Homo sapiens: one gene and its partners. The protein of the gene in region 7 interacts with the protein of the main gene of each other region in a biochemical or structural test. Each region holds a gene or a part of one and is shown on either strand. Other genes may lie near its edges. The genes, in order: ERBB3, ERBB4, INPP5D, TEK, DDR1, PRKCD and SHC1.

The links.
Region 1: the proteins of SHC1 (region 7) and ERBB3 form a complex in vitro, tested with the Homo sapiens proteins (2 studies listed by BioGRID and IntAct, with this or other methods).
Region 2: the proteins of SHC1 (region 7) and ERBB4 form a complex in vitro, tested with the Homo sapiens proteins (2 studies listed by BioGRID and IntAct, with this or other methods).
Region 3: the proteins of SHC1 (region 7) and INPP5D form a complex in vitro, tested with the Homo sapiens proteins (2 studies listed by BioGRID and IntAct, with this or other methods).
Region 4: the proteins of SHC1 (region 7) and TEK form a complex in vitro, tested with the Homo sapiens proteins (one study listed by BioGRID).
Region 5: the proteins of SHC1 (region 7) and DDR1 form a complex in vitro, tested with the Homo sapiens proteins (one study listed by BioGRID).
Region 6: the proteins of SHC1 (region 7) and PRKCD form a complex in vitro, tested with the Homo sapiens proteins (one study listed by BioGRID).

Annotation. Positions count from the first base shown.
Region 1 is NC_000012.12:56,086,665-56,090,164, forward strand, and holds part of ERBB3 (receptor tyrosine-protein kinase erbB-3 isoform 1 precursor), read left to right. Parts: intron 1-912; coding exon 913-978; intron 979-1,130; coding exon 1,131-1,249; intron 1,250-1,356; coding exon 1,357-1,498; intron 1,499-1,878; coding exon 1,879-1,992; intron 1,993-2,083; coding exon 2,084-2,204; intron 2,205-3,500. UniProt on the Homo sapiens protein: Tyrosine-protein kinase that plays an essential role as cell surface receptor for neuregulins.
Region 2 is NC_000002.12:212,532,303-212,535,802, reverse strand, and holds part of ERBB4 (receptor tyrosine-protein kinase erbB-4 isoform JM-a/CYT-1 precursor), read left to right. Parts: intron 1-3,500. UniProt on the Homo sapiens protein: Tyrosine-protein kinase that plays an essential role as cell surface receptor for neuregulins and EGF family members and regulates development of the heart, the central nervous system and the mammary gland, gene transcription, cell proliferation, differentiation, migration and apoptosis.
Region 3 is NC_000002.12:233,205,873-233,208,403, reverse strand, and holds the end of INPP5D (phosphatidylinositol 3,4,5-trisphosphate 5-phosphatase 1), read right to left. Parts: intron 1,699-2,531; coding exon 1,696-1,698; coding exon of another isoform or gene 1,647-1,695; 3' UTR 501-1,646; downstream 1-500. UniProt on the Homo sapiens protein: Phosphatidylinositol (PtdIns) phosphatase that specifically hydrolyzes the 5-phosphate of phosphatidylinositol-3,4,5-trisphosphate (PtdIns(3,4,5)P3) to produce PtdIns(3,4)P2, thereby negatively regulating the PI3K (phosphoinositide 3-kinase) pathways.
Region 4 is NC_000009.12:27,171,725-27,175,224, reverse strand, and holds part of TEK (angiopoietin-1 receptor isoform 1 precursor), read right to left. Parts: intron 2,610-3,500; coding exon 2,478-2,609; intron 2,004-2,477; coding exon 1,863-2,003; intron 1-1,862. UniProt on the Homo sapiens protein: Tyrosine-protein kinase that acts as a cell-surface receptor for ANGPT1, ANGPT2 and ANGPT4 and regulates angiogenesis, endothelial cell survival, proliferation, migration, adhesion and cell spreading, reorganization of the actin cytoskeleton, but also maintenance of vascular quiescence.
Region 5 is NC_000006.12:30,894,519-30,897,587, forward strand, and holds part of DDR1 (epithelial discoidin domain-containing receptor 1 isoform 2 precursor), read left to right. Parts: coding exon 1-153; intron 154-885; coding exon 886-996; intron 997-2,102; coding exon 2,103-2,347; intron 2,348-2,495; coding exon 2,496-2,623; intron 2,624-2,842; coding exon of another isoform or gene 2,843-2,860; coding exon 2,861-3,069. UniProt on the Homo sapiens protein: Tyrosine kinase that functions as a cell surface receptor for fibrillar collagen and regulates cell attachment to the extracellular matrix, remodeling of the extracellular matrix, cell migration, differentiation, survival and cell proliferation.
Region 6 is NC_000003.12:53,188,709-53,192,208, forward strand, and holds part of PRKCD (protein kinase C delta type), read left to right. Parts: intron 1-11; coding exon 12-150; intron 151-349; coding exon 350-538; intron 539-1,164; coding exon 1,165-1,293; intron 1,294-3,399; coding exon 3,400-3,500.
Region 7 is NC_000001.11:154,964,773-154,967,747, reverse strand, and holds part of SHC1 (SHC-transforming protein 1), read left to right. Parts: coding exon 1-77; intron 78-1,203; coding exon of another isoform or gene 1,204-1,230; coding exon 1,231-1,429; intron 1,430-1,516; coding exon 1,517-1,586; intron 1,587-1,667; coding exon 1,668-1,802; intron 1,803-1,966; coding exon 1,967-2,205; coding exon of another isoform or gene 2,206-2,379; exon of another isoform or gene 2,380-2,462; intron 2,463-2,975. UniProt on the Homo sapiens protein: Signaling adapter that couples activated growth factor receptors to signaling pathways. Participates in a signaling cascade initiated by activated KIT and KITLG/SCF.

The DNA of each region.
Region 1 (3,500 bases), on a different chromosome or scaffold from region 7:
CCGTGATCAAGATTGCTCCCCAGTCCCACCAAACCAGAGTGACTCCCTTCTTTCCATCATCCTTACATTCCTGATCTGAACCCGCCTCCCCAGTGAACAAACACCTCAGGTCCCTGACTCAGCAGCCCACCAGGGCAGACCATTCCAGTCTCCTGGAATCTAAACCACAGAGGAGGTGTTTCAAGAAAAGGAGCAGGCCGAGCATGGTGGCTCATGCCTATAATCCTGGCACTTTGGGAAGCCAAGGTGGGAGGATCGCTTGAGCCCAGGAGTCCAAGACCAGCCTGAGTAACATAGCAAAAAATCTACAAAAAATTAAAAAAATCAGACAGGCGTAGTGGCTCGCACCTGTAATCCCGGCTACTCAGGAGGCTGAGGCAGAGGATTGCTTGAGCCCAGGAGGCTGCAGCTGCAGTGAGCTGTGATTGTGCCATTGTACTCTAGCCTGGGCAACAGAGTGAGACCCTGTCTCAAAAAAAAAAAAAAAAAATCCCTGAGTACTAAGCAGGGAAGCCAGATCTTTAGACTCCACATCTGTTACTCGTTCCACTAGAATATACTCCCATTTCCTTGGAGCCCACCTTCCCCTGACCATTCACATGCATATATTCCTGCATATATTCAGTTTGCCCAGGAGGAACTAAGTTCCTGGGTTGGGACTAGGACTAAGGTTGGCATTTGCCCCAGTCCCTCCCCTTCAGCTGCCCAGTGGGTGGTGTGGAGGCGTGGCCGCGCCCCTTGTTGACAGGTCCACTTGAGCCCAGCCCTGCTCTCCAAGGGCAGGGAGGGACACAGCCCTGGCTTTTTGCTTCCCGGGATTGAGGTGCCTGTGTACTGACATCATACCCCGTTGATTAAAACAAGCCTTTCTTAGCCCTGATGGCCCCTTGTGTTGCCTTCCTTCCCAACCAGGTCCCCCCTGTCATGAGGTTTGCAAGGGGCGATGCTGGGGTCCTGGATCAGAAGACTGCCAGACATGTGGGTTTGAAATTCCCTCCAAAAACTTCACTCATACGCTTTCATATCCCTTCCTCCCCAAGCCTGGGTCAACACTGTGGGGGAGGCATGAGCAGTGGCCTCAGAATTCAGTCCTAGGAGCCCTAACAGCCATGCTTTCTCTCCTTCCATAGTGACCAAGACCATCTGTGCTCCTCAGTGTAATGGTCACTGCTTTGGGCCCAACCCCAACCAGTGCTGCCATGATGAGTGTGCCGGGGGCTGCTCAGGCCCTCAGGACACAGACTGCTTTGTATGTACCCTTTCCATTGCCTGGGTTCTGAAATTGGGATGTGGCCTTTGAGGAGGAGGTAGGGGTACACACGTAACATAAATCTGATGAGCCTCCTTTTTTCCCAGGCCTGCCGGCACTTCAATGACAGTGGAGCCTGTGTACCTCGCTGTCCACAGCCTCTTGTCTACAACAAGCTAACTTTCCAGCTGGAACCCAATCCCCACACCAAGTATCAGTATGGAGGAGTTTGTGTAGCCAGCTGTCCCCGTAAGTGTCTGAGGGGAAGGAACAATGATCAACAATAGTAGATCCAAGATTTTAGACAAAATTGTGGAAGGGAAAAAGAATCCAGTTGGTGATAAATAGGGAGATTGGTGAATGGTTATGATCATCTAACCACTCCAGTGAGTGACCCTTACGTCCAGTCCTCCCATGACTTCAGCTATCACCCTTACTTCTGCTCCTTGTAGCAACAAATAGTGAAGAGACTTTTGAATCTATAGGGCAGCACTTAAGGGATCTAGGGTGGCAGATGGGGACAAATCCAGTGCAGAGCTGGAGGGAGCCTAGGCCCAGAGCAAGGGTTCCATTGGTAGCTGGTGATGTTCCTCCCTCATCTCTAATGGTGTCCTCCTCCTCTTCCCTAGATAACTTTGTGGTGGATCAAACATCCTGTGTCAGGGCCTGTCCTCCTGACAAGATGGAAGTAGATAAAAATGGGCTCAAGATGTGTGAGCCTTGTGGGGGACTATGTCCCAAAGGTGGGTAGGAGATGGTAAGAAGTTGTAAAGAGACAGCCTTTCCTCTGAGCCTGCGCAGACCACCCCCACTGAACCTCTCTTACATTTGCAGCCTGTGAGGGAACAGGCTCTGGGAGCCGCTTCCAGACTGTGGACTCGAGCAACATTGATGGATTTGTGAACTGCACCAAGATCCTGGGCAACCTGGACTTTCTGATCACCGGCCTCAATGGGTTAGAGATCCTGCCTTCCCTCCTTAGACCCCAGCCCACGCACCCCTCACAGTTCATTTCATTGGCCAAAACTTTCCTATGTGGAGCTGACTAGGAATCAAAGTCATAAAATTCTAGCCTGTTACAAAGGACCTGAAAGAATGCTTAACACATCCTCCATCCAGGCCTTCGGTCCCCTCAGGAACATCTTTGAGCAATTCAATATCGCCCTGCCAAGGAACAAGGGACAGGAACAACATATCCTCCTTCTTAAAGTTTTCTTTTTTATTCTTTTTTCTTTTTTGAGATAGGGTCTTGCTCTGTCACCTAGGCTGGAGTGCAGTGGCGTGATCTCGACTCACTGTAGCCTCGACCTCCTGGGCTCAAGTGATCCCAAGTAGCTGGGACTATAGGCACACACCATCATACTTGACTAATTTTTTTGTATTTTTTTGTAGAGACAGGGTCTTGCTATGTTGCCCAGGCTGATCTCGAACTCCTGTGCTCAAGCAATCCTCCCATCTTGGCCTCCCAAAGTGCTAGGGATCACAGCACCCAACCTCCTTCTTAAAGTTTTGTAAAAGTTCTTCCTTAGATTTGGATAAAAATCTGTCTCCAGGCTGGGCCCGGTGGCTCATGCCTATAATCCCAGCACTTTGGGAGGCCGAGGTGGGCGGATTACGAGGTCAGATCGAGACCATCCTGGCTAACATGGTGAAATGCCATCTCTACTAAAAACACAAAAATTAGCTGGGTGTGGTGGTGCACATGCCTGTAATCCCAGCTACTCAGGAGGCTGAGGCACGAGAATCACTTGAACCCAGGAGGCGGAAATTGCAGTGAACCGAGATTACACCACCGCACTCCAGCCTGGCGACAGAGCGAGACTCTTTCTCAAAAAAAAAAAAGAAAAGAAAAGAAAATTCTGTCTCCCCATGACTTTTAGCTGTTTTCACTCATTCTGCTCCTTGGAGCAAAAAGAACAAAGGGACTTTCTAGTCTATAGGACAGCATTTAAAATGTGTGTGTGTGTGTAAAAAAAACCCACTATGACCACCTGTTTTTTTTTTTCCTTTAATTTTTTATTTTGACATAATTTTAGATCTACACTAAAGTTGCAAGAATGGTATAAAATTCCCCATATACTTTTTTTTTTTTTTTAAGACAAAGTCTCACTCTGTTCCCCAGGCTAGAGTGCAGTGGTGCAATCTTGGCTCACTGCAACCTCCGCCTCCTCTGCCTCCCGGGTTCAAGCAATTCTCCTGCCTCAGTCTCCTGAGTAGCTGGAATTATAGGTGTGTGCCATCATGCCCGGCT
Region 2 (3,500 bases), on a different chromosome or scaffold from region 7:
CTTTTGCTTGGAAAAAAATTCAGCATTAGAGAGGATGTTTTTTAGAAATTCTAAAGGACTTTGTCTCATTTTCAATTATGCATTTTATTTAGATATATCTAGATATAGCCAAAGTCCCTTTATATGGCAATTATAAAGCCTTTGCTAACCAAAGGAATGGTTCTAAAATTCGTCTTCCTTGTATAATGGAAAATTATCAATATTGCCTTGGTATTGAAGAAAATGTATAGTAGCATTGAGGTGGTACTCTTATATACCTTAGTAGATAAACGATGAACAAGTTCAGTTCCCATTTCTTTTTTGCAGGTAACTCAGTCTTGCTTTTCATTCTATAAAAGTACATATAGCTTTCGTACATATTTAAGATACATCATTATATCTCCAAAATCATGGGGTTATTTTTCATTTGAGAAGAAAAATGTTAATAAAAGTTAAGTGGTGAAAAAGGTGTTAAATATATTTTCAAGAAAGCATCAATTCTCTTTCTTACAAGTGTTTACTGTAAGCACATCTATCGGTACAATGTTTTCTTTTTAATTTGAAATTCTCATATATATATATATAAAAGGGGGCTTTTTAGAAGAAGGTGTTATTTTTTTCTTCACAATATGTCTAAATAAATATCTGTTAGTATAACTGCAAATCGCTTGGAAATACTATAACTGTTCTGTTGTGATGAAATGACTCCAGTTATATCAGTATTCCTTTTTTTTGCTCTTAAACTCAACTGCTTTTATTTATTTTAATCATGTATGCATAGAAAGTGAAATTTTGTTGAAAATCAAGGCACTTACTGCTTTATATATATATTTTCATTTAGTCACTGGAAATGTGTCTTAATTAAGAAATTACATTAGAATATTTATCAGAGCATGAACTTTGTGGAAGATTTATGCATTTTTTATTCTAACCTGAACACAGTAAGTTTGCATTGGCTGATTTTTAGAGTTTGCATTTATTTGATGGAAAATCGTATTTCCTCCTCAAAGTGGATTCAAATATGTAGTATTCATGAGCTTTCATCCCTTTGGTTTTTAAATAGAAGTACTATTTATCATCTGTCTTATGCATTCACCCTTTCTGTTACTATAGATTCTCTCTTTACATCTTAGTATTTATTGAGTTTACATGTGTTAATATATATTTTCCCTTCCGCCACTAAGTATATTGTTTTTGTTTGTGTCTTTCCCAGTAACCTGCCACTCAGCCACTGCAGGAGTCCTCTGAGCCAGTTTTCATTCTTTCTGATAAATCTGATATGGCTGGTTGGCCAGACAATCACAAGCCATTCCATTGCTCAGATTTATTCCTGAAAGAAAATAAAAAGGCATCGATCCAAGATCACTGGCACATCTTAAAAGCCTTGACTCCAAGGCCAAACCTTTCCACAGAGAAGTCCCTCTTACCCTTTTTCTTTCTTTCTTTTCCCCTCTTGACCAAGGAAGGAAGGTGGACCACTGCTATTTAAAAAATGCTAGTGAGGCAATGAATTGTGCTCTTTCTAAGTACTCTTGGAAGCTTGATTAGAGCCACCTTGAGATTAATGGCTATGCACAGTGCATATTTTAGACAATAAATTGAATTAGGATGGCTTAAACATTGCAATGCTTTAAAGCGGTATTATTTTTGTGTTATATCAAGCTGGTTATTAGGAAAAGTTAACATGTTCTTAAAAATAGCCATAAGTTTTGGCTTTATATTATAGTGTTCTGCTACTGTTGGATATCCATGTATAGTTTGTAAGTGCCTAAAACATAAATGAAATAAATGATCAAAACGGATTTTCTGATACCTACAAACTTGTTGGTACTTGCTCTGTTTAATTTTACCAGTTTTGAGAGATACTGCTTTGTTGAGATGCTAATATTTGTACTGAAATTAGTTTTTAGAGGTTCAAGCCTACATCTGTTCTACAGAAATTAATCACCAAGCATATTCCACTGTTATCTTTTACAGTGATCTACTGAGTATCCTGTGCAGGGTAGAATTTAATCATATTAACAACTTTTCTCCAGGTTATATCATTTTAGAGATGCTCTATTATGTTACATTTCACCATATGGAACCAAATTACATGTTTTATCTAATACTCATTTTCTGAAGTATTATAAATATTGGCAGTCAGAGTTAAAACCTTACTTTTTATGATTTCTAATACAGCTATTGACTGGAGTTTTCAGTTTATAATGAAAAATAACCCCTTTTTATGAAAAAATTGTAGGTCAATGTTTCCTGAAACTGTATGTCTTCAACATAATTTGAGGGAGACTTTAATTGCCTATTTTGTGGTTAAATGGGACATGGGACGTAGTCACATTGTTTAAATCAGGATTTCTACCTTGCAGAGACAGTTCTCGAGTTTCTTAATACCTTCAGCAACTCACTGCATCTCTTTGTGACTTGGCTTCTCTGCCTGGGAGAGAAATGCATATAATGCACTATTTCTGCACTGTACAGTTTTATGAAAATAACTTTAAAGTCTTTGATATTGAGATACATTCCACTAAATTGTTTTTATAGATGTAATCTAAATTGCACATGTAATCTAAAACATGTATACCTATATTAAGAAACATAATGTAAACTTTCTAGCAAACTGTCTCTATCAAAAGAGTACCTGTCTAATGAAATAAAGAGCTTATTAACTCAAAGGCATTTGTATTTGAGGGCAATTTCCCCAAAATATTATTTTCAGAATTGTTCTATGGTCTCTTTTATTTTTTCTGAGTTGTTGGTTATTCTGAAATATTTATTAAATAAATTGCCGTATTTTCCAATTCTGTAATCAAGATTTAAGGCCACTTCCTTGTTTTCACACTTGATACTTAAACTAGTGCTTTATATTTATACAAACTTTTCAAGAGAGGAAAGCTGTCCCTTTTACAATATGGAGTTGAAATATGTGGATGTTTTGTTAACTAATTCTAAAGAGGCTATGTAGCATGTAATAATTGTTTTAGAGTTATTTCCATTTTGAATTGTTCTGCAGGCCTGTCACTTTGCACAACTCCAGGGGGCAGCAGCCACATAGACTTTAATAGGAATAGTGCATGCCTTAGCTGTGGGTAGTACAGCAACAGCCTTGCTATTGTGTGATGCTAGCGAATAAAGCACTAAAAGTTAGGAGGTTTGGATTCTGGTCATACAATCATTTGTTATGTGATCTGGGATTAGACTACTTGCTTCTGTCTCAATCGCCTTACCTTTATTAGTGTAGCTAAAAGTCATGCCTAAGCTATTAACATCTTGAATGTTTTTAATAATTCAATTAATTAGAAATGGAAAGTTTAGACTTTTTAGAAAAAAAGTTTATTGGTTTTTAATTATTTTTGTAAGTGGACCTCTTTTTTGTTGTTGTTGTTCCAAGTGAAGTCATAGGCATAGCCCTAGTTTCTAAAACAGCTGAAAGGGTAAAATAAAAAGAGAGCTGTGTAGTTAAGCTGCAGGGAGGAGGCAGCTTTGAGGCCCCTGCCGTTGACATTCCCTCACTTTCCTTTCAC
Region 3 (2,531 bases), on a different chromosome or scaffold from region 7:
GCCTGGAGCCCAGGCCTGGTGTCTGTGAGCAGAAGCAGAGGCCAGGCAGCCCAAGGTGGGGCAGAGGCGCCGTGGAAGTGGCCCGCACTGTGCCTCTGGGCGGGGGTCTACTCCCTGACCTGGGAACCCATGACCTGGGGAGTGTTGACGTGTTTTTTTTGTCACTGCAGCTTAAGTGGTGAAAACTTATAAAAGCTGGGAGGAACTTGTGGGCTGCAGGACAGCAGGTTTGGAGGGGATGCTCGTGGCCTCTGGGTGGCCGCAGGGTGCTTGGAGTGCCAGGAAGATGTGTGGGTGGAAGGAAGGAAGGGGTGCGGTTTACTCCTGTTCCTAGTCCAGGACCAGCTTCAAACTGGCTCTATGGTGTCCCATCTGGTCAGGGCAACACCATCCATCACCACCATGAACCCTTAACTGCCTCAGTTGTGCCCTGTGCAGGCCCTGCCATCTAGAAGGATATCTATGGCTCCGAATGTCAGGAAAAACGCCACACACACAGCTGAGTGAGAAAGGCACAATTTATTGGTTACGCAGACTTCCATCATGGGAATGTGGGGTGCATTCCCTTCTGCATTCACACACACCACTGGATTTAGCTCCCTACATTAATTCTGCTATGTTGAAAAAGCAACATAAGGAAAGACATCACCCATCTATTCTCCTAATAACCAAGGAAGCAGAGCTGAAAGCCACAGAGATAGGAAGAAAAGGCTGCACTATTTCAAGAGCCTGGAACCAAGAGGCCCACCCTCCCTGGCAGCCAGGCTGGAGAGCACGGCTTTCGGGAGCAACAGCAAAGACTCTTCTACCAGCACGATGGAATACATGTTGGGGGGCTTGGCTTAACTGTGGCTGGTGATGGCTGCCCACCTCGAGGAGGGCACAGGGAACCTGGCACAGGCCTTGGCATCTCTAGCCCAAGCTGAGGCCAGATCTCTCCACTGGAGAATAGGAGCTGATTTCCTGCTCCTTCCAACCAAAGAACTGAGAAGCCAGGTAGATCCCTGCTCTCAGCCTAGCCATGCCGGAACCCGCGGGACTTTAGCTAAAGCAGCTTGTGTCACTGAAGCTGGACAGAACAGGCTTCTTGTACCCTAAACAAGCTACCCAGACTCTTCAGCTCCTTAAGGCCGAGCCCTTGTCTCACTCCAGGAGGGCACTGGGCTTCTTAATGCTTTCACCCCTCCGAACACACACCGTTTTAAACTGGTGGGTTTGGGCACGTGGTTTTAGGTGGCTAGAGCCTCAGCTCTCGAGGTCATCCTGATATGACGAATGTTCGTAAAGCACTTAGCACAGCACTTGGCACATCATGAGTGTTCGATCCATGTGGCCATTATTATTATTAATATTATTATTATCTATATCTCCACCCTCAAATCGGCGCTGCAGTTCCTTTCTTCAGAATGGCGCCCTCAACGAGGCACTGGGGTCCCAAGTACCAAGAGCGAGCTGGGGACCCAGACTGTTTGTTGCCCGTCTGGTGTGCGTTTTTCTTCCAGCCTCAGCACTTGGTGCTAAGTCTCACAGGCAGTGAACTCTGTGGGCCACACAGAAGCTAGGCCCTTTCCTGAAAACACAAAGCCTTGCATAGGAAGCTGGGCAGGAGGAGCCAGCAGGAGGTCCCGGGAGAGGGTCCAGTGGCTTCACGCCGTTCCTCTGGGCTCCCGACTCAGTGGCAGCTCACTGAGGGCTTCACTGTGGGACAAGAACAGAAGGGCTGTCAGGGCTCATTCTCACCAGGCCATGTTGAACTAAGTGGCCCAGGTCCCTGCATGCTGTGGGCTAGGCCAGGCTTCCTTTAACGTGTAGCTGAGAAGAGCCAGCACTCACTGCTCTAAGTACTTTACCTGCTTATTTAAAAAAATTGTTTTTTAGAAATGGGGTCTTACTCTGTTGCCTAGTCTGGAGTGCAGTGGTGCAATCATAGCTCACTGCAGCCTTGAATTCTTGGGTTCCAGCTAGCCTCATGCCTCAGCCTCCCCAGTAGCTGGGACTACAGGTGCATGGCACCACACCCAGGTACGTACCATATATATATATAAAATATATACACATATGTAATATGTATAGTATATATATATGAAATGATATGTAATGGATATCAATGTAAATACATAAATATAAATATATAATTTCTATATAGATGATAATACATGGTAATAATACATAATAGCCTACAATGCAATTCTCCTTCTAAGTCTATGAGGTAGGTACTATTAACAGCCCCTTTTTACAGATGGGTAAACTGAGGCTCAAGGCACAGAGCCAGGAGGTGGGAGGGCTGGGATTCAAATCCAACATAGCCTGACTGTTCTCTTTTTTGAGATGGAGTCTCACTCTGTCGCCCAGGCTGGAGTGCAGTGTTGCGATCTCGGTTCACTGCAACCTCCGCCTCCTGGGTTCAAGCAATTCTCCTGTCTCAGCCTCCCGAGTAGTTGGGATTACAGGTGCACACCACAATGCCCAGCTAATTTTTGTATTTTTAATAGAGACAGGGTTTCACCATATTGGTTAGGCTGGTCTTGAAC
Region 4 (3,500 bases), on a different chromosome or scaffold from region 7:
CACTCATAGATGGGAATTGAACAGTGAGAACACATGAACACAGGAAGGGGAACATCACACTCTGGGGACTGTTGTGGGGTGGGGGGAGGGGGGAGGGATAGCATTAGGAGATATACCTAATGCTAAATGACGAGTTGATGGGTGCAGCACACCAGCATGGCACATGTATACATATGTAACTAACCTGCACATTGTGCACATGTACCCTAAAACTTACAGTATAATAATAATAATAATAATAAAAAGAATTAAAAAAAAAACAAAAAAACCTGGGCCCAGAGACACATTCACTACAAAGCTGATGAAGTTTATGTTCTAGAGACTGCTGGCATGCACCGCTTCCTGGGTCCTAGCAAAGTGTTCATAGTTTGCGTAACATTTTAATTTTTTTTAAAATACAAGGGATCTGCCCCCTGCCTGGAGTCACCTTTTACCTTAACATACACACTTCAGAGGCCAGATGGGATTTCTCCACTGCTGTGGCTCACTGCATGTTCCGGGGGGCAGACATAGCATTTAGAGGGAACTGAATGAGGTATTGCAGGTGGCTGAAGCTTACTTTTGTGTAACTCTCCTCTTTGTCCTCCTCCTCCAAGCCCCTGGAGCTATGCTGTCCAGTACAGTTAGCCACGTGTGGCTATGGAACTCTTAAAATATAGCTAGTCCAAACTGAAATTTCAAAGACTTACTATGAAAAAGGGAATGTAAAATATCTCATTAATACTTTTTTCTATTGATTACATGTTGAACTGATAATGTTTTTAACATATTGGGTTAATAGATCAAAATTATTTCACCTATTTCTCCTCACTTTTTTAATGTGGACACTAGAAAATTTTAAATTCTATATGTGGATGGCTTATATTTCTACTGAACTGCTCTGCCCTGGAGCATTGTTATCAAGTTGCTGGGACCCCATCGTAGCTACCTTTAGTGCCGGATATGGGAAAAGCTGACTTTGTGAGATAAACACTGAAAAGCCTTTGAGCTCTGGCTAATTCACAGTATTAATATACATTAGGGAGGTTCTGTCACATTTGTCTGCAGGTTCATGTTGAGCTACTATGCAACAGTAGATGTGAAATGCATACTGAAAAGTGGATGTCAGATGCACTCCACAGAGCCTGGTCAAATGGGAAAGCTTATTTTACAAAGGGCAGAGGGACTCTGAGTAGATGATGTTAGTACTACTTGCATAAGGTCCACGGCAGGTAAGATTTTAACTTCTTCAATTTTTGAGCCCCAAATCCTGTCTGGATCTGACATAAAAGCTCTGATTTTGATTTTTTTTTTTTTAAACGAGGTCTCACTCTGTTGCCCAGGCTGGAGTGTAGTGGTGCAATCATAGCTCACTGCAGCTTCAAACTCCTGGGCTCAAGGGATCCTCCTGCCTCAGCCTCCTGAATAACTGGGACAACAGGCATGTGCTACCATGCCTGGCTAAAGCTGTGATTTTATGATTCACTGAAAAAAAAAAAAAAAAAAAACCAAAAAAAAAAAACAAGTCTTCTATGGTCTTCCTACTCAAAGCATGGTCTGAAAACCAGTAACATCGGAACTACTTGGGAGCCTGTTAGAAATGCAGAACCTCGGGCCCCAGTCCATGCCTACCAAATCAGAATCCGTGCTTTAGTAAAGATCCCCAGATGATAGTTATGAGAAGTACTTTCTATGCGGTCTAGATTTTTACTGTGAAAGTATAATTAACATTGGATGTAAACATCCATGATTCAAAATCCTGTTGTCCAGTAGTGGGTAGCTAAGCAGTCCAGGTATATCCGATGTTGTGATTGACAGCAAACTGGATCTCCTTTATATACCTGCTAGAACATCCTCTGTCCAAGGGTGTGATTGGTGCATACCTTCATTGCACTGCAGACCCTTCCAGCCTGTGGCACAGGAACACCCATAGGGGTCAGGGAGACAGAACACATAAGACTTGCATCCCTCTTGTCCACTGCACCTTTCTTTACAAGTTCTGCCAAACGTGTGCAGTTCACAAGCTTTGGGAGGAAAAGAAAAGATGATTCAGAGTCAAATATGCAACCCCTTGAAATACATAATTCTTTAGATTCATTTCTCCTAGTCTAGTGAATATGGGAAACAGTCAAATCTCAGCTGTGGCATGGTAGGATGAACATACCCTTATGGCCCATTTTACTGATAATGAAACTGCCCCACAGAGCAGACATCAGGGACATCACTCACAATCATGCAGGTTTGTGCAGTGCACAAACCTAGGGGGCAGCATTCACACTGTAAACATCACGGATCTGTATATTTATTATAACTTTCCAGTGGTTGGCATTAAAGAACCTTTAGGAAAAGGCACCTTTTTCTAATTCACACACAGGTACCATCTGACCTAACAGAGGCCATTTAGCGTCCATTCCCATCTGTGTCGAGATCTAAAATTCTAGATCCAGCAACGATGGCTTTTTAAATCCACAGCTTACTTATCAAGTCTCTTTACTTACCCTTCTCACACGTCCTTCCCATAAACCCAGGAGGGCAAATGCATTCTCCAGTATCTTCATGGCAGACACCATTGTTCATACAAGCAGTACAGAGATGGTTGCATTCAGGTCCCCACTTCTGGGCTTCACATCCTTTTGTTAAGGAAAACAAGGCTGTGGTGAGTAGAGCGCATTCGCTCAACACATCTTTATTGAGCACCTACTGTGTGTCAGTCATTCAGTGGACAATGGTGAATAAAGATAAAATACAGGCTCTGCTCTCTAAAAGCTCATCATCTAATATGGGAGACAGACATGTAAACAGGAAATCGCGACAGAAACAAAGACAAGGAGTACCTAACTCTGTCTGGTGGATAGAAGAGGGCATAAAGGAAGGCTTCCCAGAGGATATGGTATGCAAGCTGAATCTGCAGGACCAACTAAGTAGCAAAGAAGATAAGGCTGGAGAGTGTCTTCCAGGCAAAGACAAGGCATGGGAAGACAGCATGGCATGTCCAGGGAGCTGCAGGTATGGTTACAGGCTGGAGCTGTGGTTTTCAAAGTGTGGTCTCTGACCAGTAGCATCCCCATCATCTGGGAATCTGTTAGAAATGCAAACCCCAGATCCCACCCAACCACGACCTACTGAATGAGAAATTCTAGAAGTGGCGTAGTAATCTGTGCACATTGGTGTCAGAAGTGTTGTGTTCAGTGAGAGCAGAGATTAGGAAAAACACTTTGGTTTTCCTATCTCAAACAACTATATATCAACATGTATAGGTATGTCTGACCTTCCTAGAAGATGTACCCCATTTACCCTCTGAGTACACCTAGTACATGGTGTTATATCAGACTCCAGAGAAACTAGCTAAATGAAATAAAGGCAAATTGCTTCCTTGACATTCAGACTCTCCTGAGTAGTGGAATAAAAGGGGATGTCACTTGCTTCTCCCAAGTCCACAGAAACTTCATGTAAAGGTAGCTGTGAGGCAAGCTACTAGAAGCTGAATATTGCAGTTTTGCTATCATCATAAATTATATTTT
Region 5 (3,069 bases), on a different chromosome or scaffold from region 7:
TGTTGGAAGAGGAGCTGACGGTTCACCTCTCTGTCCCTGGGGACACTATCCTCATCAACAACCGCCCAGGTCCTAGAGAGCCACCCCCGTACCAGGAGCCCCGGCCTCGTGGGAATCCGCCCCACTCCGCTCCCTGTGTCCCCAATGGCTCTGGTAAGACCTGCCTTGTTCCAGTCGCACCTCTGTCCTCTCTGCTGTTTTCTTATTGTATCCCTTTCCCATTCTCTTTTTTTCCTGTCTTCCCCAGTTTCCACTTGTTTTCTTCTTTCTGTGCCCCTGGTTACTGTCTATATCACTCTTTGTCCCTACCATGTAGTCTCTCTCAAGAGTTCCCCATGTATTACCCATAGTCCCCCGTGGTGCTATCTTGTCTGTGTCCCACAGACATCTCTCTATCTTTGTTGTACCCTCTCATTGTGTCTCCCTGGCCCCTTTGCTTTGTATTAGACTCACCATGTTTGTTCCTTCATCTATCCTCCATCACCCATCCTTCCATCCATAGTCATACATCCTTGCATCCATCCATCAATCTTCCATCATCTGTCTTTCTATCTATATTCATAAATCTATTCATCCATCCATCCACCCACCCATATCCATCATCCATCTATCCATCTATATTCACACATCCATCTTTCCATCTGTTATCCATCCATCCAACAAAACATCTGTTTACCATCCATCCATCTATTCATACGTCCCATCTGTCCATGCATTCATTATCCAGCCAGCCGTCCGTCACTCTGCAGATCCTTGTTTTATCCTGTCTGTCTCTTAATGCAATCATCCCATCAGCCCTGGTCTTGCCCTATTCAAGGTCTCCCTGTCTGTCTAGCCTTGAGTCTCATCCCTTCCCCGTGTTTCCCCTCCTCCTTCTCCCGACAGCGTTGCTGCTCTCCAATCCAGCCTACCGCCTCCTTCTGGCCACTTACGCCCGTCCCCCTCGAGGCCCGGGCCCCCCCACACCCGCCTGGGCCAAACCCACCAACACCCAGGGTAAGCCCCTCTGCCCCTGGGCTCCGCCAGGCTCCCCATACCTCTACTGGGGCAGGGAAAAGCCCTCACACCTTGCACTTCCTCCTCTCCCCACTGTGGCCTATTCTGCTCTCCTGAGCTCCCAAGGAGGAAGCTCTTGTGCCCTTAGCTCATCTCTGCTGCTGCTTGCTCTTTTTTAAGGTCCCCCCCTTGAGCTGAGGAGTAGAAAGCTTACTGGTCCCCAGCTCTTCTCCCTCCTCCTCTTCCACGCCATCTCTTCAGCTCTCCAGAGCTAGACAGGAGGTTGCTGTGGTGGCCCCAGACTATAGTAACTCCTCCTTTATTCTCCACTCTCTCTAGAGCTGCGAGGAGGAGGGCTCTCACCCCGGGCGCTTGCCCTTTCCCTCACATGTGTCCTCTCTCTGCAGTCCCAGAGGTGAAGGCTCATGCCCCAACCCTTTCCATCTGCCCCTCTTCTCCTCAGTGTTGCCTTCTCATTGTGGCCCCTTCCCCAGGGCTAAGAGGGGACAGCTCTGCTTCCTCTCCTGTCTGTAGACAACTTGTGTTGGGGCTGTGAGCAGCTGTTACCCTCCCTCCTCTCTGTGTGCCTCTGTCTCTGCTTGTTGTTGAGCTTGGTGTGTTGGGTTGAAAGGGTTGGGAGGGCTTGGCCCCAGGGGGAGCCAGGCTGAAAGCCACGGGAGAGCAGCTAAGTGAAGGGGAGGGAGCTGTGGTGAACGGGACAAGGGTTTGGAAGGTGGAGGGTGCCTGGATGCTGGGACCATCCTGAGGCGGGAGAATTCCTGGGGAGGAATTCTTCTTCCAGCCAAGATTTATCTCACAGTCTCTTGAGAGACCCTAGGGAGGCCCTAAAAGAGTAAGACTTTATGACAGTTTTGCTCAACCATATTCATTGCCTTGAAAAGCTCTGGAATAGCTAACTCTCGTCCCATGCCAGTGTCTTCCTGGTTTGAGGTTGGCGCATGGAATACTGGGAAGATACAGCATAGACCCAGTCTCTCACTCAACCGGGAGACACAGGGCCCTCCGGGAGGCTGAGGTGTGGGGAACTATAGCTCTTGGGCTGTTCCTGATGCCTCGTCCTGTCTTCTTTCCCCTCACCCCTGCAGCCTACAGTGGGGACTATATGGAGCCTGAGAAGCCAGGCGCCCCGCTTCTGCCCCCACCTCCCCAGAACAGCGTCCCCCATTATGCCGAGGCTGACATTGTTACCCTGCAGGGCGTCACCGGGGGCAACACCTATGCTGTGCCTGCACTGCCCCCAGGGGCAGTCGGGGATGGGCCCCCCAGAGTGGATTTCCCTCGATCTCGACTCCGCTTCAAGGAGAAGCTTGGCGAGGGCCAGTTTGGGGAGGTAAGGAGGGTGCCTACCCAGTGTCTGGCCCTATTGTGTGCTCTGATGCCATGCCTGCGCATCCCCCTAGCCAGGAACCTTAGTCATTTGTAACCGTGTTAATCCGTTTGACCCTGTGACCGCCTAGCAAACGAACTTCTTTCTCCAGGTGCACCTGTGTGAGGTCGACAGCCCTCAAGATCTGGTTAGTCTTGATTTCCCCCTTAATGTGCGTAAGGGACACCCTTTGCTGGTAGCTGTCAAGATCTTACGGCCAGATGCCACCAAGAATGCCAGGTGAGGACCAGGGATGGCATCTGGAAGAAGGGAGGGGAGGCCGTGAAGAGTGGGGAGCCATCTAGAGAGAACAATGGCAGAGCCCAACAGAGGGGTGGCATCTCTGGGAGGGGATTTACATGTACGCTGGGGGTGGGGACGCCTGGTCTGCCTGAGGTGGGGCAGGGGGGTGGGGGCGCGGGGGAAGGTGCAGGCCGCCCACTCGGCATTCCTCTTCAGCTTCTCCTTGTTCTCCAGGAATGATTTCCTGAAAGAGGTGAAGATCATGTCGAGGCTCAAGGACCCAAACATCATTCGGCTGCTGGGCGTGTGTGTGCAGGACGACCCCCTCTGCATGATTACTGACTACATGGAGAACGGCGACCTCAACCAGTTCCTCAGTGCCCACCAGCTGGAGGACAAGGCAGCCGAGGGGGCCCCTGGGGACGGGCAGGCTGCGCAGGGGC
Region 6 (3,500 bases), on a different chromosome or scaffold from region 7:
CCTGTCCTTAGGGACCTCAAACTGGACAATGTGCTGCTGGACCGGGATGGCCACATCAAGATTGCCGACTTTGGGATGTGCAAAGAGAACATATTCGGGGAGAGCCGGGCCAGCACCTTCTGCGGCACCCCTGACTATATCGCCCCTGAGGTGAGCCGATACCCTTCCAGCCCCCCGCTCAGTCAGGCACCTTGCCTCCCCACGGTGGGCCAGGGAAGGATTCCCAAGGGCAGTGATGTCCAAGCCAAAGCCCATAGGCTGAGGCGGCCTGGCTAGGCTTCGTGCCCAGGGGCCCCTCTCAGCCTCAGCACCTCAGCTCCTGCTGACCTGCTGCTCTCCCCACCGCCAGATCCTACAGGGCCTGAAGTACACATTCTCTGTGGACTGGTGGTCTTTCGGGGTCCTTCTGTACGAGATGCTCATTGGCCAGTCCCCCTTCCATGGTGATGATGAGGATGAACTCTTCGAGTCCATCCGTGTGGACACGCCACATTATCCCCGCTGGATCACCAAGGAGTCCAAGGACATCCTGGAGAAGGTGGAGGCCCTGGGCTGGGCTGGGCTGGTCTGGGCTGGGCTGGGGCAGGGGCTGGCAGACACTGGGCTTTGGGTGAGGAGCTTCCTGTCTCTGGAATGGCAGCCTCAGTGGTGCTGCAGTCCTAACATACGGGGTATTGCTCTCTCACCATGTTCCCAGGAACTCCTGTCTGAGTCCTGTGCATAGAATCAGCCTGACATGGTGACTAAGGGCCCAGGGTCAGGAGACAGACCCGAGGCCAAATGCTGGCTCTGCCTGGGACTAGCTGGTCACTTAACCTCTCAGAGTTTGTCTCCTTATCTGTAAAATGGGGCTATGAGCAGACTTGACTCACAGAGTTGTTGGGAAGAAAATAGAAACATATGATGCTCAGCTGTGGGCCAGGCAGATAGTAAATAATAAAAAGTTCCACCAGCAGAGTCGCAGATGTCCAGCCCAGAGCCTGTCATCTCCGGGGGAGCTGGGAGCACTGCAGGCCAGAGTGGCCTCCCTCAGCCCCACCGTTCCCCAGGCTGACTGGGGCTGGGGCAAGCCTGGCTTTGCATCCCTGGGCCTGCTGGGGATTTGCTGAAGCTCCAATTTCCCATGGCCCTTGGGTGCTAACCAGGGTCCCTGCTGGGTTGCAGCTCTTTGAAAGGGAACCAACCAAGAGGCTGGGAGTGACCGGAAACATCAAAATCCACCCCTTCTTCAAGACCATAAACTGGACTCTGCTGGAAAAGCGGAGGTTGGAGCCACCTTTCAGGCCCAAAGTGGTATGTGATCCTGCCCTGTGCTGCCTTCAGGCTGAGCTACTCCTCTCCTGCCCTCCCTCTCTCCTGCATCATTCACACGCTTTCCACCTCTCCCTTCTTCCAGCAATCTCCATAGCATGTTCAGTCACAGCCGCTGCCCTTGTATTCTCATCCTCTCCCTCCTGACTCAGTCATTCAGCACACACTGGGGACTGTGGATCCCACTGTATGCAGAGGACCCTGTTTTGGGAAATAGAGTTAAGACCTCACTTTATCGCTCCATTCAATCCATTTTCCAATACATATGGGGAATCCTGAGTCCCTGTTGAATGCAGAGCACAGTGCTGGGCTGCACAGCAAAGTGGGAGATGCAGTCCCAGAACCGGAGGAGCTCTCAGCTAGTTGGAGAGATAAGAAACTTGCACACCTATGACAATTTGTGATACGAGATGACAGTATAAGAGATGCCCCAGGACACATGATCCGTTGCTATTGAGTGGGTCTGTCAGCAGGAACCCAGGTGGCAGAGAAGAGGGTGGGTCTGAGAGGCCCCGTTGGAAGAAGTGAGACAAGGGACAGCTGGGAGGCATTCCAGGTGGAAGAGGGGCTGGTTCACTCACAGGCCCAGAATCTACAGGGCTACCAAGGAACCAGCCTGAGAGCAGAGGCAGGTGGGGCCACTAAGAAATTTGGGGCTGTGTGGCCCCTCTGTGACCACAGTTCTTCCTTCCCACTCCCCTTCTGTCCTTTGATTCCCCTCCTCCACCAGGGCACACAGTTCCCACTGGGCAGCCTGTGTAATGCGCCCCACATTTGTGCTTTGAGGCTACAGAGCACTTCCCCTACACCAGGGACCTCAAACTCAGACGTGTCCTGGCTGAGCATGTAACTGACAGGCTAGGCCAGCTGCAAGAAAATCACACAGCCTGCTTTCAGTCTCACTTTTGATAGATTTCCTTCTCCGCACTAAGAAACACAAAGCAGGTGTGATGTACCCCTTGTCAGTGGGGCAGGGGCTGTCCAGGGGGCTCTTAGCACCAAGAGTGGGCAGGAAGTGGGCCCAGGGCTGCTTTAATCTGCCAGTTTTCAAAAGAAGCTGGAAATCTGGATTTTTAGGTTGCATTGCTCAATTTTAAAATATAAGTTCAGGCCGGGCACAGTGGCCCACACCAGCACTTTGGGAGGCTGAGGCAGGCAGATCACCTGAGGTCAGGAGTTCGAGACCAGCCTGGCCAACATGGTGAAACCCCGTCTCTACTACAAAAAATACAAAAAAAATTAGCCGGGTACGGTGGTGCACACCTGTAATCCCAGCTACTCAGGAGGCTGAGGCAGGAGAATCGCTTGAACCCAGGAGGTGGAGGTTGCAGTGAGCCGAGATCGTGCCACTGCACTCCAGCCTGGGCAAGAGAGTGAGACTCCATCTCTAAATGAATAAATAAATAAAAATAAATAAATAAAATATAGGTTCAAATTCCATTAAAACCCAGTACAAGCCGAAATGATTGTACTTGCCAGTTCAGTTTGGCTGAAGGGCCACCAGCTTGCGGTCTTTCTATATTACCATCCCATCATATCCTCAGGAGCAGAGAATCAGCAAATTTCTCCTGTAAACAGCCTGATAGTATATATTTTAGGCTTTTCAGGCTTGATGGTCTCAAAGCAGGCATAGACAGTATGTCAACAAATGGGCATGGTTGTGTATTACAAAAGCTTTATTTATGGAAAGTGAAATTTGAATTTCACCTAATTTTCATGTCATGAAATATTTTTCTTTTGATTTTTTTTCCAACCATTTAAAAATGTGAAAGCCATTCTTAGCTTGTGGTCCCCACAAAAACAGGTGGTAAGTGAGCCTCCCTGGGCTGTGATTCGGTGGTCTCTGAGCAAGAGGCTACCACCTCTCCTAACCCAGGCCCAGAGCTCCCTGGTCACTTTCCTCATCCTCTTGGGGAAATGGCAGCCTCCTTCCCATGGGGCTCCTTTCAGGCTGCTAGGGGAGGCTCTGTCTTCTGTTCTGGGTGAGGACAGCTCTGGCCTGGCCCAGCCCTGCAGGGACTCCAGCCTGGGGTGTCTGGAGGGCCATTCCCTAGGTCCTGTTCGCTCACCCCTGCCCTCTGCTTGTAGAAGTCACCCAGAGACTACAGTAACTTTGACCAGGAGTTCCTGAACGAGAAGGCGCGCCTCTCCTACAGCGACAAGAACCTCATCGACTCCATGGACCAGTC
Region 7 (2,975 bases):
ACCATTGGCCAGGCCTTCGAGTTGCGCTTCAAACAATACCTCAGGAACCCACCCAAACTGGTCACCCCTCATGACAGGTGAGCAGGTGGGGAGAGTGTGGAGCAGCTCTTGGATTAGGATTAGGAAAGGAGGGCTGCTCTTCCTACACTTGAGTTGAGAGGTTCAGGGAGGGAATAACCTGTGTGCCTCTGCTTCCCACTTCCTGCTATTCTTCTGTTTCCTGTGGCCCAGGAGGAAAGACTTTTGAGGCCCTGCTTGCCGCAGGACCAGCTTTTCTTGTTTGCTCATGGTGGAGTTGTAGTCCGGGGCCTCCAAGTTACATCTCTCTCTGGCTAGGTGGGATTTTCTACTCCCATCCCTCTTTCTTGCTCATTTCTCTGCTTGGCATTATGTGTTTTCCTGCCTCTAGAAGCCATCAAGAATTTGGGTTTGGGAGGATATCTCTTTTCCCTGAGATTACAACCTTTCCCACCTCAGGCCTTGAGGGATAAGCAGTGGAGCCAGTAGGGATTGAATATTTAGGAGAGGTTAAAATATTCTGGAGCTGGAGTGCCTCCCCCGGCCCCCCACCCCCCTACATGGTGCTTCCCTTCCTTGTTGGGAGATAGCACAGAGATCAAGAGCAAGAGCATTACTTATTTGAGACAGTCTTGCTCTGTAGCCCAGGCTGGAGTTCAGTGGTACAATCACAGCTCACTGTAGCCTCCATATCCTGGGCTTGAGTGATCCTCCCACCTTAGCCTCCTGAGTAGCTGGGGCTACAGGTGCATGCCACCACACCTGGCTGAGTAGTAGTATTTTTATTCTGGTAGAGATAAGGTCTCGCTATGTTGTCCTGGCTGGTCTTGAACTCCTAGGCTCAAACAACCCTCCCTCCTTGGCCTCTGAAAGTGTTGGGATTATAGGCGTGAGCCATTGCACCTGGCCAAGGGGATGAGCTTTAAAGTCAAACCTGAATTTAAATCTGAGCTCGGCCGCCTTTTAGTTGTGAGACCTTGGGCAGATCTTTTCACCTCTGACCCTCATTTTCCTCATCTGTAAAAGTGGGGAAGGAAACAATACCTACCTTACGGGGTTGCCAGGAGAATGAAATGATTATGTATATAAAACACTCAGCCTCAGGCTTAATCCATAGTAAATACCCAATAGATGGCTGCTGTTCTATTCTGTCCTTCCCTCCTCCTGCCCACCACACATTTACAGCCACAGCTTCACTGTCCTGTCCCTCAGGATGGCTGGCTTTGATGGCTCAGCATGGGATGAGGAGGAGGAAGAGCCACCTGACCATCAGTACTATAATGACTTCCCGGGGAAGGAACCCCCCTTGGGGGGGGTGGTAGACATGAGGCTTCGGGAAGGAGCCGCTCCAGGGGCTGCTCGACCCACTGCACCCAATGCCCAGACCCCCAGCCACTTGGGAGCTACATTGGTAAGTTGCTTGGATGGAGGCGGGCTGGGGCTAGGGTGGGAGTGGTTGGTTAGGGCTTCTGGTCTCACCTTATTTTTATCCCTGCAGCCTGTAGGACAGCCTGTTGGGGGAGATCCAGAAGTCCGCAAACAGATGCCACCTCCACCACCCTGTCCAGGTATGAAGGGAGCCGAGATAGGCAGAGCTGGGGAGTGTTGGAGGCAGGGCTGGGATCACTGTAGAGCCTCCCTTTCCTCAGCAGGCAGAGAGCTTTTTGATGATCCCTCCTATGTCAACGTCCAGAACCTAGACAAGGCCCGGCAAGCAGTGGGTGGTGCTGGGCCCCCCAATCCTGCTATCAATGGCAGTGCACCCCGGGACCTGTTTGACATGAGTGAGTGCTCGTCTCTCTCCTCTCTGCATCCCCACCTTTCTACTTGGTTCTGGCCCTTCTCCTGCCTATCTGCTCTTTCCTTCCTGACTTCCCTTCCCTGAAGTCTGGGTCTTGGGTGTGTGTTGTGCCTGCTACTTCCCCTCACCCTCCCTCTATACTTCCAGAGCCCTTCGAAGATGCTCTTCGCGTGCCTCCACCTCCCCAGTCGGTGTCCATGGCTGAGCAGCTCCGAGGGGAGCCCTGGTTCCATGGGAAGCTGAGCCGGCGGGAGGCTGAGGCACTGCTGCAGCTCAATGGGGACTTCCTGGTACGGGAGAGCACGACCACACCTGGCCAGTATGTGCTCACTGGCTTGCAGAGTGGGCAGCCTAAGCATTTGCTACTGGTGGACCCTGAGGGTGTGGTGAGTGTGGCAGAGGTGTGGGTGAGGGGTGGCAAAAAGGAAGGTACAGTACCCTACAGTGTATCCCTCTTCCTTCCCTCATTGCTTTGTAGACATTCCCGCTGGGCAGCTGTCTATGGGCCTCTCTTGCTCTTTAAAGTGTCTGGCATCTTCCTCCAGAGGCTCATCCCTTAGCCTGAACTATGTTCTTTATAGTCCTGGCACAGGGCCAGGCGTGGTGGCTCACACCTGTAATCCCAGCGCTTTGGGAGGCTGAGGCAGGTGAATCACCTGAGGTCAGGAGTTCGAGACCAGCCTGACCAATATGGTGAAACCCTGTCTCTACTAAAAATACAAAAATTAGCCGGGTGTGGTGGCAGGCACCTGTAGTCCCAGCTACTCAGGAGGCTGAGGCAGGAGAATTGCTTGAATCTGGGATGCAGAGGTTGCAATGAGCTGAGATCACACCACTGCACTCCAGCCTGGGTGACAGAGTGAGACTCTGTCTGAAAAAACAAAACAAAACAAATACAGTCCTGGCCCGTCCTCAAATCCCCAAGCCTTAAGCTTATCAGAGCTAGAAGGCAGTCATCTCATCTGTGCCCCTCTTTTGACAAATAAGGAAACCACCCTGAAGAGGTTGTGATGCCCAATGTCAGATGGTTAGAGGCTAGACACTGCAAGTTTCCTTTTGTAAGAAGATCCAAGGGCTTCTCCAGCTCCCCAGACTCAGGACTCAGACCACTGTGCTTTCTCTTATCTGCACTGCCTCACTGTTCTTCAAAACTTTC